Linked DNA regions of Homo sapiens: region 2 is linked to region 1. Evidence: fine-mapped expression QTL. Tissue or cell type: whole blood. Region 1 holds a variant in brackets; the other region holds the start of a gene. All regions are shown on one strand. Distances are between the middles of the regions.

Region 1 (7,802 bases):
TTCGCCAAGAGGCAGGTAGGAGTGGTGTTGGCCCCAGAAAAGCCAGACCGTATCTGTACACATGCATCCCCATTATTCCCTCCGTTGAGAGGCACACCTGCCACCTCCATCCCCCCTCCACAGCCAAGGTCTCTCCAGGCTCACTGTTGGCCCCAGCTGTCAGGAGTGACTGTTAGACTTCTGCCCCTGCTCCACTGCTGCCCCTCTCTCTGGGGCTGGATGGGTGCATGGCACCAAAGCTCTTGAGGGCAGAGCCTCCCCAACCCCATCTTCCCATCCCACCCCATGAGTCTCACAGGTGTTTCACTGGATGGCAGGGGATGCTGGTCGACTGCCCAGTGCCACCAGATGGCCGTGTTCTAGCCTGCTTCACTTGCCCTCTCTCTTCCCAGAAGGAAGCCCTCAAAGACGCCAGGCCAAGGGTCCAGGCGCCATCCCTAAGCAACCAGGCAATCATATCTGGGAGTGCCAGAACACACTGTCACTGGAGAGAGAAAAGCCACAGACTGGAAACCTAGCTTTCTTCTCTTGCCTGTCAGAAAGTGTCCTCTGAGTTACCAGCAAGCCTGCTCTTTTCCCAGAGGGTGATCTCTTTTCTCCCCTCATGTTCAGGCAGAGATACCTGCTTGGAAGTCTCAGAGTTCCTCCAATGGTAACTTTCCAAGGAGGGAAAAGTCGACCCGCACTACTACTTAGCCTGAAACATAGCTCTCCCTAGGCCTAGATGGGGAGGAATCATGCAGCCTGCCCACCCTGTGTTTTCCAATCCAGACCTATGACATTTTATAGGCAGCAAGACATTTTACAGACTGCAAGCGAGGCGAATAAAACGGCCTGTTTTTGAAGATTTGGGAAGCAGGTAAAAGTCTAGGAGCTTGGCAGCTATGAGGTCAGAAAGGTCTTTGTACAAACAGTTTTGTAACTTAAAATAATTCCTACACTCCCAGGTCACCTCCCATATAGTCAGTCAGAGCCCAGGTGAGCTAAACCTTCACCCTACTCTCTGGGTTATCGTGTGTCCCAGGCCCGAGGCCGAGTTTGCCTTCAGCAACTCCCTCTTCCTCCAACTTTCTCCCTCATCCCCCTCTCCCCTTACAGTAAACTTAGGACTCCACATTTTTTGGAAGTGTAGCTCAGGTCACATTATAATTTTCATGGGCCTTAGCTACTCTGGCCTTAGAGAGCCTCACCTCCATAATTTTTTTTTTTTTTTTTTTTTTTTTTTGTGACAGGATCTCGCTCTGTCACCCAGGCTGGAGTGCATTGGTGCCATCATAGCTCACTGCAGCCTTGAACTCCTGTGCTCAAGCAATTCTCCTGCCTCAGCCTCCCATGTATCTGGGATTACAGGTGCCTGCCATCACACCTGGCTAATTTTTTTTTTTAATTTTTAATTTTTATTTTTGTAGAGATGGAGTCTGGCTGTTTCCCAGGCAAAATGTAATGTAAGCTGGATTCCTTATTATATTCATTATTCTTATATTTATTTTTTCTTTGTATTTCAAAAGAACTTAAAATTAAAACATTTTCATGGGTACCAGTAAGTATCATGGCCCCAGATGGTGTGCCTCCTGAATGGGTAGTTGGCCCAGATGTAACTCACAGCACCCCACCTGCTCAGAAGATGCACAAACCTGCCTGCGCCCTCTGTCGGCAGCAGCAGTAGAGGCCTTCAACCTCTACTTCAAAGTGTAGACCCACAACACTTTGAATTATTCTTTCAGCTAACAATTTATCAGAGCAACCGACATCATAAGGTCAAGTATTCATGAATTCCCACTCCATTAAAGCCTTCACTTAGCAGCCTATACATGTATTCGGTGAATATGAATGTTCCCAATGAAAATATTTGCCTAATAAATGAATCGACTAAATCAAAACATTAAAACTGTGTGGTTGAAAAGTTATGAAAACATCCATATTTAATTATTAAATTATATTTTAACTACATCAATCAAATCATTACTTAAACACATCATTTGCTGAAATTTTGCACACTTATTCTAGAATACTTTTATAAACAGAAAAAAATAAAGATAAAAGTTTCAAATAAACTGGATTATTTAGCCTGCTAAATTACAAAGTGAAGGGTTATTTTGTATTTCATCAGTTTGATAAATTTGAATAGGGACATATCACATTTCCCCAAGTGGGGAGGGACACACCTGTAAAAGATTTAGAACAGGCATGTCTTGTTTTACATAAATACTTGTATTATGAAATTGTAAAACATAATCAGAGAACCAAATAACTTGGCCTCTTAAGTCCCATTTTTAAAATGGAAACTTGGACTAGTTAGTACTTTCCAAGCATTTTTAGTTATAAAAATGCCTTCGTAAAGTGAAATGGTCATAGTTAATAATGACAGTTAATCTTTGTGTTTTCACATATCGTCTCATTTCATCCTTACAACACCATATGATCAGTGTCATTATGTTACAGCTGAGGGAAGTGGGGCTAGACGAGGTTAAATAACATACTCAAGATCAGACAGCTAATGAATGAACCAGAACTCAGACCCAGTTGTGTTGAACTTCAAATCTCATGCCCTTCAATCCCTCAGACTCCTCTCTATGAAGTGGAAGGGGAGGTTTTGCCAATTGAATAGAAGTTAGGGGCTCCTCACAGCCCCACTAACTCCACTTCTCATCCAGGGAACTCAACTTGAAAAACATCCCTTTTTTCCTATCAAAAAAGATTTCAAGTAAGAGTTTTGCCTTTATAGCAGGTCGAATAACTCTTGATTTGATAAAACTTTTATCAAGCTTAAGATACAATTTTTAAAATTCTCATAGTTCTTTTGTGTCTCCCAAACAGATCCAGTGATTCCCAGAAGTCTGCAGACCCCACCCCAATTAAGAAATTCAAGCAAATTTCAGACAGGTGGCCACATGCACAATAATATGGCATATAGTGACATCTATTGGTCAATTGTGATATTGCATCCAACTTCCTTTCACAGGAAATTTAACAGGAGCTGGTTGATGTGGAATTATACTAGTCTCAGGTATAAATCAAAATAAGAAAAATTCCTTTCATACAGAGAAAGCAGAAGGGAGATCTTGGAATCTCCATGTTCAGTTAAAGGTCTGAGTCCTAGTCCTGATTTTACCATAAATAACTTGGTATAGACTTGGTTAAGTCACTTGGTCTCAGGAGCCTCATCTTCAATCAAACAGGGTCACGCCCTCTCAGAGGCCCTCAAAACACTAAAGGACACCCTCAGGGCCCTCTAGGAAAGGCAGAGTCAAGTGAGTGTGGCTACTGTCTTCACTCCCACATCTAGGCACATCTATTATTATCTTTTCATAAGCGAATTTTCTTCTTAAAAGTTTCAAAAATATTCTGTTTCTACTATTCGGACCTGGTCAGCCCATGTCAACATTTACTGTACCCCGCACATTTTAGGGTCCTGTACTAAATCTATTCTTGTTTAGTTTTGTTTTGTTTTACAGACAGGGTCTCACTCTGTCGCCCAGGCTGGAGTGCAATGGCACGATCACAGCTCATTGCAGCCTCAAACTCCTGGGCTCAAGCAATCTTCCCACTTTGACCTCCCAAGTAGCTAGGATTACAGGCATGAGCCACCAGGTCAGTCCGATGTACTGAATCTTTGTAATCTACAAAAATAGGAATCTAGCTCCCTTCCCTTTAAGAACTTACAATTTAGTTGTGGAATAAAACAAACACATCATCTACTCATTCTTTAACTAAGCATTTTTGTCAAATCAATTGGAAGATTTTCTTCCATGAGATCATATCTCTGATTTTATAAAACAAGTCAATGAGAGAGAGAAAATTCTTTTTATAGTCAATCTTGCTGGAAGGCATCTTTACCATAAAATAAATGTTTCAGGAGTCTCTTGGGAAGAATTCATGATGCAGTTGAGATCCACTGTCATCACTATGTAACAGTGTTCCTTCTCATGGGAATTGGATGAGATTAAGAGACTTTGTGAATATTCTCTGTTGTGCTTAAGCAAAGTTTATAAGGCTCTTGGTGTCCCAACCAAGAATACAGGCTTTGTATAGGCAAGAAGGGGAGGCATAAGATATCTGTAAATTTCCCACTAAAAGCTCATCTTCACTTAGAAACCAAATTGTTTGATTATTAAGCATTTCTATTCAAGAATAGAGAGAAATTTACTCCTCAATGATCCAAATAAGGTAATAATGTCATAAATAATGATTGATTAAGCACTTACTCTAGCCCTGAAACTCTCCTAACAGTTTTACCTCATTTAATTTTCACATCTCTAAAAAGTACATTCTATTTTTATCATCATTTTAGAGAAGAGGAAACTGA[G/A]GCACAGAGTTATAAAATAACTGAGGAAGTTATGATTAGCTAACTCCACTGATCCAGATTGCCTGCCCTTGCGAAAGTTGTAAAAGGAGGTCATAACAGTACCCCTCCCCCACAGGCTACCGGTTACCCCCAAGGACTTTGCTGTAGGCACAGCCTGCACCCAGCTCTGGGCTCAGGGACTTTCTGGACAATTGCACAAGGTCAGGAGTGGCATGGGCAATGCCTGAATAATTGCCCAGCCTTTTATGTTAGAAAAAAAAGAAAAGAAAAAGAAAGTGAAGTTCTTTAGGCCTGTCTCTGTCTCATAGCACTCTGCATAATCTGTCTTATTGTGGTCAAAATGCAATATGTACACTACTTTAGAAGCTTATCAAATCAGAGATGTTCTCTTGCTCAGGTTGGGCCCGACTGAATGATATCGGGGCAAAGTGATGAGAGTTTCAAGACTCCAACAGACATAAAAGAATAAAAGAGTTATTTCATTGTCCCATTTTTCCTCTACCCTAGAAAGTCCAAGAAACACTTGATTGTAATGTGTACAGTTTCCAGATTTTGACCGAAGATAAAGTTATTTTCAAATATCTGAGAAATCTAAGACCACGTTCCCTACCCTACCTTCCCCCTGTCCTCAAGTTAAAGACCCATGGACCACAGCCAAGCCCCTGGGCAAAGCTGGATAACTCTCAAAGGGGAAGTATTCTGACCTTTCAATTATATTCCCGAGAATGAGGATGATAAGCTTGAGTCCCCCAATCATAACTCACTGCCATCTTAGACCTGCTGAATGGACAGGTCTGCTCTGACAGATAGATTATGAGGCACGCAAAGAACAAAGAACCTTTCTCTGAGGAATTTCATAATCACTGTGTCTTTTCTTCTCCTTCCTTTAACATGTGTAATTTATCTTCTCTTGGAAAGGTGCATATAAATTTTAATGCAATTTGCTTAAGAACAATTAACAAAGTCACAATTTGAGAATCCTATTTGTTTCCCAGGAGAAAGGGAAACATCTGAACTGCATGCTGAGTACTAAGGAGACTTCAGGCCCTTAAAGAGGAATTTAACTAGAAGGTATCCCTGATTTGTCAGGCCCTTAAGACAATAAAACATATCTGTGTGATCATAAGACAGCCCCATCCTTCAACACTGACTAAAAAGCCTTAGGTGACATTGAACAAGCAGGCACATATCTCAGGACTTCAAGATTAGAGAGATGGAGCCCTCCATCTCTAGTCAAATAAAACACTAGTCACAGAATTTCTGTAAAGGAAGAGTATTAAGGACATTGTCCAATCTCCAGTTCTACGTACTTTCCCCTTCCACAATGTGTTTGGCAAATGGTCAGACTCCCTTTCTATTGTCCAGAGGCTAGGAGGAAAAGATTATCTTATTCCACATTAGAAACAAATGCTTATCCCCCAGGTGGCTATAAATCCCAGGTGGCATTCAGGTAGTTTCCCTTGTAACCTGCTGATGCAGCTGAAATTTTCTCAAGTATGGATTGGAAAAAAGAAGCTGCCTATCCATCTCTACCCTCCTTGCTAGGCTCTGGGAGGCATGCTGAATGCACAAAAGGCCCACTTTTCAACTTGAGAGTCAATACAAGTGGAATAGCCAGTGTTTCCAATTCAGCATGACAATCTGAGTCAATGCATTTAACACTCTCCCTTCGTAACTTGCAGCTGAAATGACCTATGCAAAAGAAGAGGACAAACACTCCACTCCTTGGTGTGACGGGACCAGAGATGAGTGACGATCATAAGACTGTCATTTTGTTGAGGGCAGTGTCAAATTCAAACTCCACCACCACCTTGAGAAGGAAACAGGTGCTGGAGCTCTCAAGGAGGGCCGGGTGGTCCCAGGGATGCTCAAGACTTGTTCACAGCACAGAAGGCATGGAGAATGGAGCAGAGGTTCTGATGAGGTTTGCTCTTGGGGAGGGCCGCCATGCTGGCTGGAGGGGTACTGCTGCCTGCCCCGGTGGGCTTCAGCTGCTGTGACAATCCCAGGAGGAGCCCTTCAGCCAGAGATGAGGCTGCCTACCTATGGCCACCTCTCTTCTTACTTCTCATACACCAAGACACTTCTAAGGTGGTTAAGGTCAACAAAATATAAACTTATTTCCTGTGCCAAGACTGAAAGGCTTTCACAGGGATGCATAATCTCTGAGAGAACACTTACCCATTCCCATGCTGGACAGGCATAAGCCTCCCATTGTAAGGATGAGAAAATGGAGGAAAATGACCACATATAGAAATAATGGGGCCAATATGAGGAGTGCCAGACAAACTTAATAAAATAATATTTATCTGGATTTATTCTAGCAAATTAGATTAAGAAGGATATTATTAGGGTTTATTAAGTAGTGTTAGACATTGGTAGGATTCATAATAAAAATACATACATGGCTTAAACTATGTGAAGCATATAAACCCTTAGAAAAATCTCTTATTATAATGTATTAAATTTAGAGAAGTCACAGGATAATATCAATAGATATTGAAGAGTCATTTGGTCTGATGAAATTCCACATATATTACTGATATTAATACAAAATCAAAACATCAGAGAACTATAAAAAGTATACTTCCTTGACACAATAAAAAAATGCTTACTTCATACCTAAAAGTCAAGCACAAGGGGCATTCCCATTAAAATTAGGTACCGTATAAAGATGCCTGCTATTATGAGCCTTGTGTTAGTCAAGGTTCTTCAGAGAAACAGAGCCAGTAGGATATGAGAGGGGATTTATGAGGGAATTGGCTGCTCACATGACCACAGAGGCAAAGTCCCACGACCAGCCACCTGTAAGCTAAAGAGAACCAGGGAACTCAGAACCAGGGAAGCTGACCGTGCAGCCTCCAGTCTGGGGCCAAAGGCCTGAGAGCCCTGGGAGGTCACTGGTGCAAGTCCCAGAGTCCAAAAGCCAAAGAACCTGGAGCCTGATGTCCAAGGGCAAGAGGAGGAAAAGCCTCCCACTCCAGAGGAAAGACAGCAGAGACAGAGAATCTGCTGTCTTTCTCCTGTTTGTTCCAACCAGGCCCCCAACCAGTTGGACAATGCCTGCCCCCATCGAGGGCAAGTCTTCTTCTCTCAGTCCACTGACTCACCCACCAATCTCTCCTGGAAACAGACACACCCAGAAACAAACCAGCCATTTAGGCATCTCTCAATCTCCTCATGTTAAAAATTAAAGTTAAAATTAACAGTCATAACGATTATTCAAAATGTGAGAAATTTTTAGGCAACTGTAATAAGGCGAGAAGAAAGAATTAGAAAGTATATATTTTGGAAAGAGAAGATAAAATTATAATTTTTTGCATGATGATATAATTACTTGAAACCCCAAGAAAATTAGCCACAAAACAGTTAGTACTAATTAGAGAATTCGTGTAATGTGTCCAATTGCAAAATAAATATACAAAACTTAATAGCATCCTGAAATGCCTTCAGGGATTAGGCAGACAACAAAAATGAATAAAGTACACTGGTGGGG
Region 2 (7,802 bases), 23 kb after region 1:
CAGGAAAGATTCCAAAGTTTGAAGTTCCCTCCAACGATCCCAGCAGAAATGTTTCTAACTTCTAAGAATGTCCTAAGAGAATGAGCTAAAACACAGAAAATGTTGAAAGTCTTATTTAGAATATTAAAAACTGGAAGCAATCTAAAGGTCTAACAGTGGAAGAATGATGTATTTATAATGTGAATATACATGTGATGTCCAACAATTTCAATTCTAAGTATGAAGAGTAAGCCACAATAAAGAATGTTAAAAAACAATAATTAGTAAGTAAATATAATTATAAAACCAAGTCAGAAATACAAAAAAAGGGACAACTATACTGGAATGATGAAATTCGATTTCTGTTTCCTGCCTCCTCCCTTGCTGGCTCTATAATTTTTTTTTTTAATTCTTAGAATAGGAAAAAAAGGTAAGAATGCTATGGCTGGAAGGCCACTAGTAAACAAGCACATATAAAGGGTCCTCAAGACAAGACCTAATATGGGTATGAAACTAAATGTTATAAGGAAGGTCATTGTCCTCAGCAACTGACTCTGCTATTTTTACCCCAAACAGGAGCCCATACAAAACCACCCCATTCTTTCCCTCTTTCTAATGAAAGGTCCCAAAAGGTATCCATCCAAGAAGTGCTGCCAATAATAACATTGTTAATTGTGACCAGCCTATAAACATCTTATTTGCAAAGGATTTTAGGCCTGAACTGACATGAAATATAATACTGTGGAACTTTTTTTGTCTTTTTGTGAGTGTTTTCTGACTGCAAAAGAACAGTTCATCAAATTACTTATCTTTTAAAAAACACAATCACAAAATCATATTCATATACTGCTACTGTAGTATTAGGGAATCCCAAGCCTAGACAGGCTGTTTAATTAAAAAAAAAAATGTAAGGATGCTTGTTTAAACAACTCAGAAAGCATTTTTCCCCCAGAAATATTACAGTGATAAGGGAAACGATCTGACCACCTAAGCCTCAGTTCCACAATCTCCCTCTAAATTCTCTGGTCTAGAAAACCCATGGCTCTCTGGGATGCTTCTTATGCTTTTCAGGAGTTTCCCTCACAGGTCTGCATTTCTATCATGGAATTTTTGATTTTTTTTTTTAAGCTAGGAAATGTCTTACTAACAAGTTGTTTTATCACCTAAAATCTACTATTATCCATTTTTACAACATAGATAACACTTGGTTGACTTAAATTCTAGAAGAAAAAAGTCTTGCTTTAGCAATCAAAAACTTAAAAACAAAGGGGTAAGAGGATACTGAAATGTACTAATAGTTTGTGTAGGACCACAAACATTAAAGGCAAGATGATAGTTTTAAAAATGTAATAACTCAAGTCTAAACATGAATGAATTTAAATTTAATCCTTTTTGTATGAAACCAAATAGCAGTCTAATACCACTGGGACTAAGTGCTATAAAAGTAAGTAATAAAACAAATACATGAAACATGATTACAATTTAAATTCTTTGGATTATCTTTTTTTTTTTTTTTTTTTGATATGGAGTCTTGCTCTGTCGCCCAGGCTGGAGCGCAGTGGTGCCATCTCGGCTCACTACAGGCTCCACCTCCGGAGTTCACGCCATTCTCCTGCCTCAGCCTCCCGAGGAGTAGCTGGGACTACAGGCACCCACCACGCCCGGCTAATTTTTTGTATTTTTAGTAGAGAGGGGTTTCACCGTGTTAGCCAGGATGGTCTCAATCTCCTGACCTCGTGATCTGCCCGCCTTGGCCTCCCAAAGTCTTTGGATTATCTTGTAAGACCCCACATTTAATATAGAAGTTTAAAACTCTCTAAAATAATACTACTAAGCATCTTAGTATTATTTAATACTTTTCTATCTAAAAAGTTGTCCTTTCCTTTTTTTTTTTTTTTTTTTTTTTGAGACAGGGTCTTGCTCTGGGCTCAAGCAATTCTCCCACCTCAGCCTCCCATGCAGCTATGACTACAGGGGTGCACCACAACACCTGGCTAATTTTTTTTTTTTTTTTTGAGACTAGGTCTCACCATCTTGCCCCAGGTGGGTCTAGAACTCCTGAACTCAAGCGACCCTCCCACCTCAGCCTCCCAAAGTGCTGAGACTACAGGCAAGGGCCACCATACACAGTTTAAGAATATTTTTTGGATTTTCACAGCTGTCAGGAAAGCTTTAGAAAGAAAAGATGGGTGTTAAAAGTTAAGACACAGCTTAAGACAGAAGCATTGTAAAACAGGAACAAATACTGGCTTAAACCTGATGTCTCTAACTATATTCCTCTATTTTAAGAATGTTTTAGTATCTGATAGTTTCATCAGCCTTTCCATTTTCCAATATGTGACCTTTATTCCCACCATGTCCCAAATAAACGAGTCCTAGGATTTCCTAGAAGGTGGACCTCAATTATTGTGTCCCTTTTATATATAAGGCAAACATTGCTTTTAAGTTCTGTTGGAACATGGGAACTTTCACTAGAATGCTTAGAATGTTCAGAAAAAATGTCCCAAAGCTCTCTTCTGGTCCATACAAGACAATCAGAATGTAACACAGTAGCAGAGGGTGTGGAACATACACTAGTCATATTTGATTCTCTCTGTCAGGGGTTCTTCTTTGTAATGGGAAATAATTTGAATCAGGATGGAACAATTGATAAGAAGAAAGAACAAACCAGCTAACCAAATAAACAGAAAGGTGTTCTTTCCTTGAAACTCTAGAACATAGGCAGGAGCCAGCCACATGGCCTGCCCTATAAACCATAACATTAGGAGAACTACAGCTCTTTTCCAAGGCATTCTGACTAGTGGCATCACAAGAGGCAGTAAGCAGAGGTACCAAAGAAAGTACTGGGAGGTGCAGACTTTGTTAAAAGTCACAAAAATGGACGTATGAAGAAAACAACAAAAAACGAGGTCTCTGTAATAGGCGAAAGACACAGCTGAAAGCAAGATGAGCTGTGGCAGGAATGCAGCAATTCCCAGGGAAAAACTCCACTTGCTCTCTGCAGTCAAATACAGCATGTAGAAGTACGGAGAAAAGTTGTGACGGATATCCCGCCTAGTCAGGTGATAAAAGTAGGTGTGTTCCAAAAATTCCCAGCCGTACTCATAGTAAAAACCAAAGCTCAGGGCAAAAAACGTGAGTCCAGCAACTGCTACAAACAGCAGCACAGCCCGATTACACAGCCTTTTCAGGAGCTCGTACAAACAAGCCTGGAAAGTGTACCGGAATTGACGGAGGCTTTTGTCATTGTCGCGATCTGGAAGCAGGTGGAGGGTTATGGGAAGGATGTAAGTCACTGGATATATCTTCATATGCACCGCGAAACCATAGAATACAGCTGCACACGCGACGAGTCTTTTCTTTATCAAGTAGAGGACCATCAGGACCAGGGAGGCGACAATAGAGTCCGCATTACCGCGGCTGGATACTGCCATAGGCAGGGGGTTAAGAAGCCAAAAGACACAGTAGCCACAAGCCTGGCGGCGCCCCAGCCCCTTCAGCAGCAGCAGGCGGTATAAGAGGAAAGCGGTGAGGAGGTCGCAGCTGATGAAGAGAAACTTTCCAAAGAGCTCGCTGAGGTAGATGTTGGGAGTGAGGAGCCAACCCAGCAGCGGGGTGTAACGGTACGTGGCTCTCAGGTAAGGCGAGCGCCCCTCCGTGACGAAGCGCGCGGCGTCGGTGAAGACCTGGTAGTCGATGTCCGTATACCTCACGTGCAGGGTCCGGTCCTGGAAGACGCCATAGAAAACCAGGGCGACTCTGGCTAGAAAGGCCACACCAAAGACGCCGGCTGGAGCCACCTTCAAGTTCAGGAGCCATTCGCCCCAGTGCTTGGTGGAGCCCATGATCTGACCGTGCGACAGCTGCTTAGCCCCAGCTCCAAACTGCCTTCGTACTTCTAACCTTCCCTTCGGTTCTTTGCAGCAGGTGGCCGCCGCATCTCCCACCCGCCAGGCTGCCAACCGAAACGACTGCAGACTATCACATCCGGCATGAAGCCCCGCCCCCGTACTGCTACCTGTCTCCAGCCCCGCGCGGTCTTCTCAGCCGCCCGAGCCAAAAACTTGCCTTCCTCTGGATGGACGGTCTCGCTTCCGCTTCTTCTTCCAGCGGAGGCGGGATTTCCGGTCCGTGGGAGGGGAGACGTCCGCTTGCCGGGAAATCCGGCACTGGCTTGAGGATTTTATGGAGTGGAGTGAGATTTCTTTGTAAGTGACAGCCCGCCGCCCCCCGCCCTCTTCCCGCGCCCCATTTCCAGTCCTCAGAGGAAAACCCTCCGACGAGCAGCGAGCTGCGGGCTGCGCGCTACATCCTTCAGTCCTGGGCTGGAGATCCGAGAGTGAAAAATGTAGGAGTGAAAGGAAGATAAGCCTTCTCATGCTTTACTCCACTAGCTCGCCGGTATTCACCGGGGATTTGTGGGCCCCGGACAGGACAGGATGAGTTGAAGGGGGCTGAGTGTGTATGTTCCATGCAATATTGGAGGCATACTTATATTTTTAAATTACTAGTTGGTAATCAGAGATTCAGATTTAAGTGGGCAGCTTGTATTTTATCCGGCAACCCTAGGTGAAGGTGATGGGAAAGAAGACAGGAAAGCGTCACAAAATTCCTTAACTTGTCAGCCCCTTATGCCTCAGTATCTCTGTATTTGCTATTTCTTCTGTCAAAGTTGCCATCCGCTCTCCAATCACTCTGGCAAATACCTACTCAACCCTTCAGGCATCAGTGCAAGTGTTAGCTCCCAGCTCCCACTCACTTCCTCATCACGCAGAATGAATGACTTAGATGCCAGTCCCCTCCCCTGTCCGAGGATAGGTAGACTGGGGCGGACGGGATCTAAGTTCCAGAAAATCACTCACACAGAAGACCCTGCCATGCTACTAAAAGTTCTCCCAGTGCTCCAGAACTCCCTGGTCATTCCTTTGTTACAGCATTTGTCACACTGCTTTGTAATAACTGTTTTTGTTTGTTTTGCTCTCCTAGTTTTCCATCAGGACACTTTCAATTCTTCGGTATCAGAGATTATCTTGTTCTTTTCTCTACCTCAACATCTAACACAGTACTAGTAGCCATTCAGTAAAGTTGAATTGATTTTAGAGGTTCCTCCTACCAGAATATTTCTAGAGTGGCATCTTTGGATTGCTCCCAACTCCCAGTTATTTTCCCTTTTAAATATCCTTTATGTATGTCAAGGTCCCCTGCTCCCCCCACCCCACTCCAACCCTACTTCCATGAATTTCTTGCCAAGGACTGTAACCCATTAGCTCTTCCCTTTCCGTGGTTACTTAGTGCACTTACATAGTCCGCATTGTAGAATTTGATACTTTATTTTAGATTGTATTCATAGCCCTCACAAGAGATTATAGGGTTCTTGGGGGTAGAAATTATATCTTATCCTTAATTTTTTTCAATTATGTGTAATTTATTGTAGTCTTAGGCACATGGTAAATGCTTAGTAAATACTGACTAATTGGATTTTATAGAATAAGCCTGCTTCCTAGGGGAAGTCTTCTAGACTAGAATAAGGAAAAGGAGGTGACTTCATGCAGTCTGAACATGCAGCTCCCAGAACTACCTGCTGCTCATCCATCCTACACTTCAATTTATCCCTTGGAGATGAACTGTGTTAATCTTATATATTCCATATTCATATTGTGATAGCTCTATGTCCTTTTATATGCCTTGGTATCATTACATGCCTTAGATTGATAATTCTAACCATTTTTTTGCAGTATATTAGCCATATATATAGTGGCAGCACATCACCACTCATATAATGATGATTATGATGATGATGATTACTATTATTTATAATAGCTGGATTTGTTGAGGACTCATTTGCAATGTACCAGGCATTATGCTAAGTACTTTTCATGTAAGGTAGATATTCCCACCTTTACAAATGAAGAAAACCAAGGCTTATGGAGATTAAGTAATTTTCCCAAGTCACATAGCTAACTAGTGACAGTGCTAGAACTCAAAACCCAGTCTGTCTGACCTAGAATATCTTAATCATTATGTGGCTGACTTGCCAATAAAATGTTGATCACAAATTCTAATTTTCCTATGTTTTCTCTTATTGATCTCTCATCTTGATATTCTGGATATTCTCTCTCACTGTGACTCTTTCTACCTCTGATTTATTCTTTTCTTCTGCAAATAATAGATAAGTGAGGCTTAGTTCCCTAAGATAGAAAATATGGGAGGTAGGTGTCTGAGGATTAACTAAGTAAGGGTCCTTGTGGCTGGATTGGTTTCAGTAGTATAGCAGAAAGGTTTCAGTCAATCTGTCCCTACATGGCTGTCCTAGTAGAGAGATGGGAGGCACCAAATTTAGGCAGATAAGGAAACAACTAATAAAAAAATAAAATAAAAAAAAAACTAAGCATGTCACTGAAGTCAAAGGAGTGAGATGTAGATAGCAGTTGTGGGAACGAAGAAGAGACTGGAATCTGTAAAACAAATTGGACAGAGAGGTCCAACTTTAGTTACTATTTCTGGGTGGAAGAGATACATCACAGGGTCCGAGGACCCCATATTGAACTTTTTGCATTGGGTTTAGGGATTGTATTTTCTCACCTCTTTCTGAAAGAGTTACATTTTTTTCAAATGCTCAACTGTTCATTACCTCTCGGACTGTTACTTACAATCCTTCTTAATTCCCCCTTTCACTATCTGCTCCTAGATTTCTATCCTTTTAGAGCCAATGACTAAGGAAAGCACAAACATGGATCGCTCAACTTTAGTTTCCCTAGCAGGAACCTTGTCCTTGTTCACTATGCTGCATATACTCTCATTACCCTTCCATATCCACTATTCATCTTTTTTGCCCTGTTCTGTGTTCCAAGAGGTTAGGCTGTATGGGTAGCATCACTCAATCTCCCTTGTTCTCTGGCTTCCCATTAGAATAGACCAGTGGGAGGCACTAGCAGATCTTTGGCAGTGTCTGGAATTCCTCACCTAAAGCCATGGCTCCTGTTGAAGCTATAGCTCTCTCCTTTGGGTACAAGTCTCATGGTTCCAGTAACTGTCCCTTCAGGTTTAAGGCTGGTAAAGGCGTCCTACTTTGCGAGTGCCTGGGTACATCACCATATCTTGTTGATTTATTAAACTTGCCCATACCTTTGCAAATAGTTTCTTCATTAAAACATGTCCACTGGCCCTTTGAGTATACCATCTGTTTCCTGCTAGAACCTTGACTACTTTAATCACTTTCTTTTTCACTAGATTTTGTTCATATGTCTTGCTTTGTCATTTCTTTGGAATCTATTTCTAATTCTTTCCATGCCCAGCATCCTGCACCTTAGTTCAGACCTTCAACAACTCAAATAATACGTAGCGAACACCTATACTATACTATACCAGGATCTGTGACAATTGCCTTTCCCTCAAGCTTTAAAAATCTCTTAACTGATTTAATGTCTTATGTCTCAATTCTACTACCAGATTGATATTAATTAATAGTACTTTACTTAGATTCTTTCCTCCATCAAACATCTTCAGTGGTTCCTGACTGCCTAAAGAAAAAAATAATGAACACTTTAGCCTGATATTCAGTCCCCCTATTTTCTGGCTTTACCTTAGCTTTCCATCCTATTCACCTATAATGCCTCTGTTTTAGGTTTACTGTTCCCAAAATATGCCTTGTGCTTTCTTCTCATGACACTTTCTTCATGCTGTACTTCCTACAAAGAGACCTGTTTCTCTTTACTTACTTAAATGCTATTTGGTTTTTCAATGTTGAACCCAACTCTCAACTCCTCTTCCTAGACCTTAACAAGTGAAATAGTCTCTCCCTCCTCAAAACAGTGATGTTTATT

Evidence for each region. PIP is the estimated chance that this variant, and not a neighbour inherited with it, causes the effect.
Region 2: PIGM starts here. The variant in region 1 is fine-mapped to the expression of PIGM in whole blood (INTERVAL, PIP 0.99).

Annotation. Positions count from the first base shown.
Region 1 is chr1:160,004,868-160,012,669 of GRCh38, forward strand. All of the region lies in intron 3 of LOC124904436 (a long non-coding RNA gene), which reads right to left. Among named protein-coding and RNA genes, the nearest start is that of PIGM, 23 kb to the right of the region's middle. The variant G/A (reference allele first, on the strand shown) is at 4,307.
Region 2 is chr1:160,027,916-160,035,717 of GRCh38, forward strand. PIGM (phosphatidylinositol glycan anchor biosynthesis class M) reads right to left here and starts at 4,075. Exons shown (of 1, transcript NM_145167.3): 1 at 1-4,075. The coding sequence starts at 3,824. The coding sequence ends at 2,553.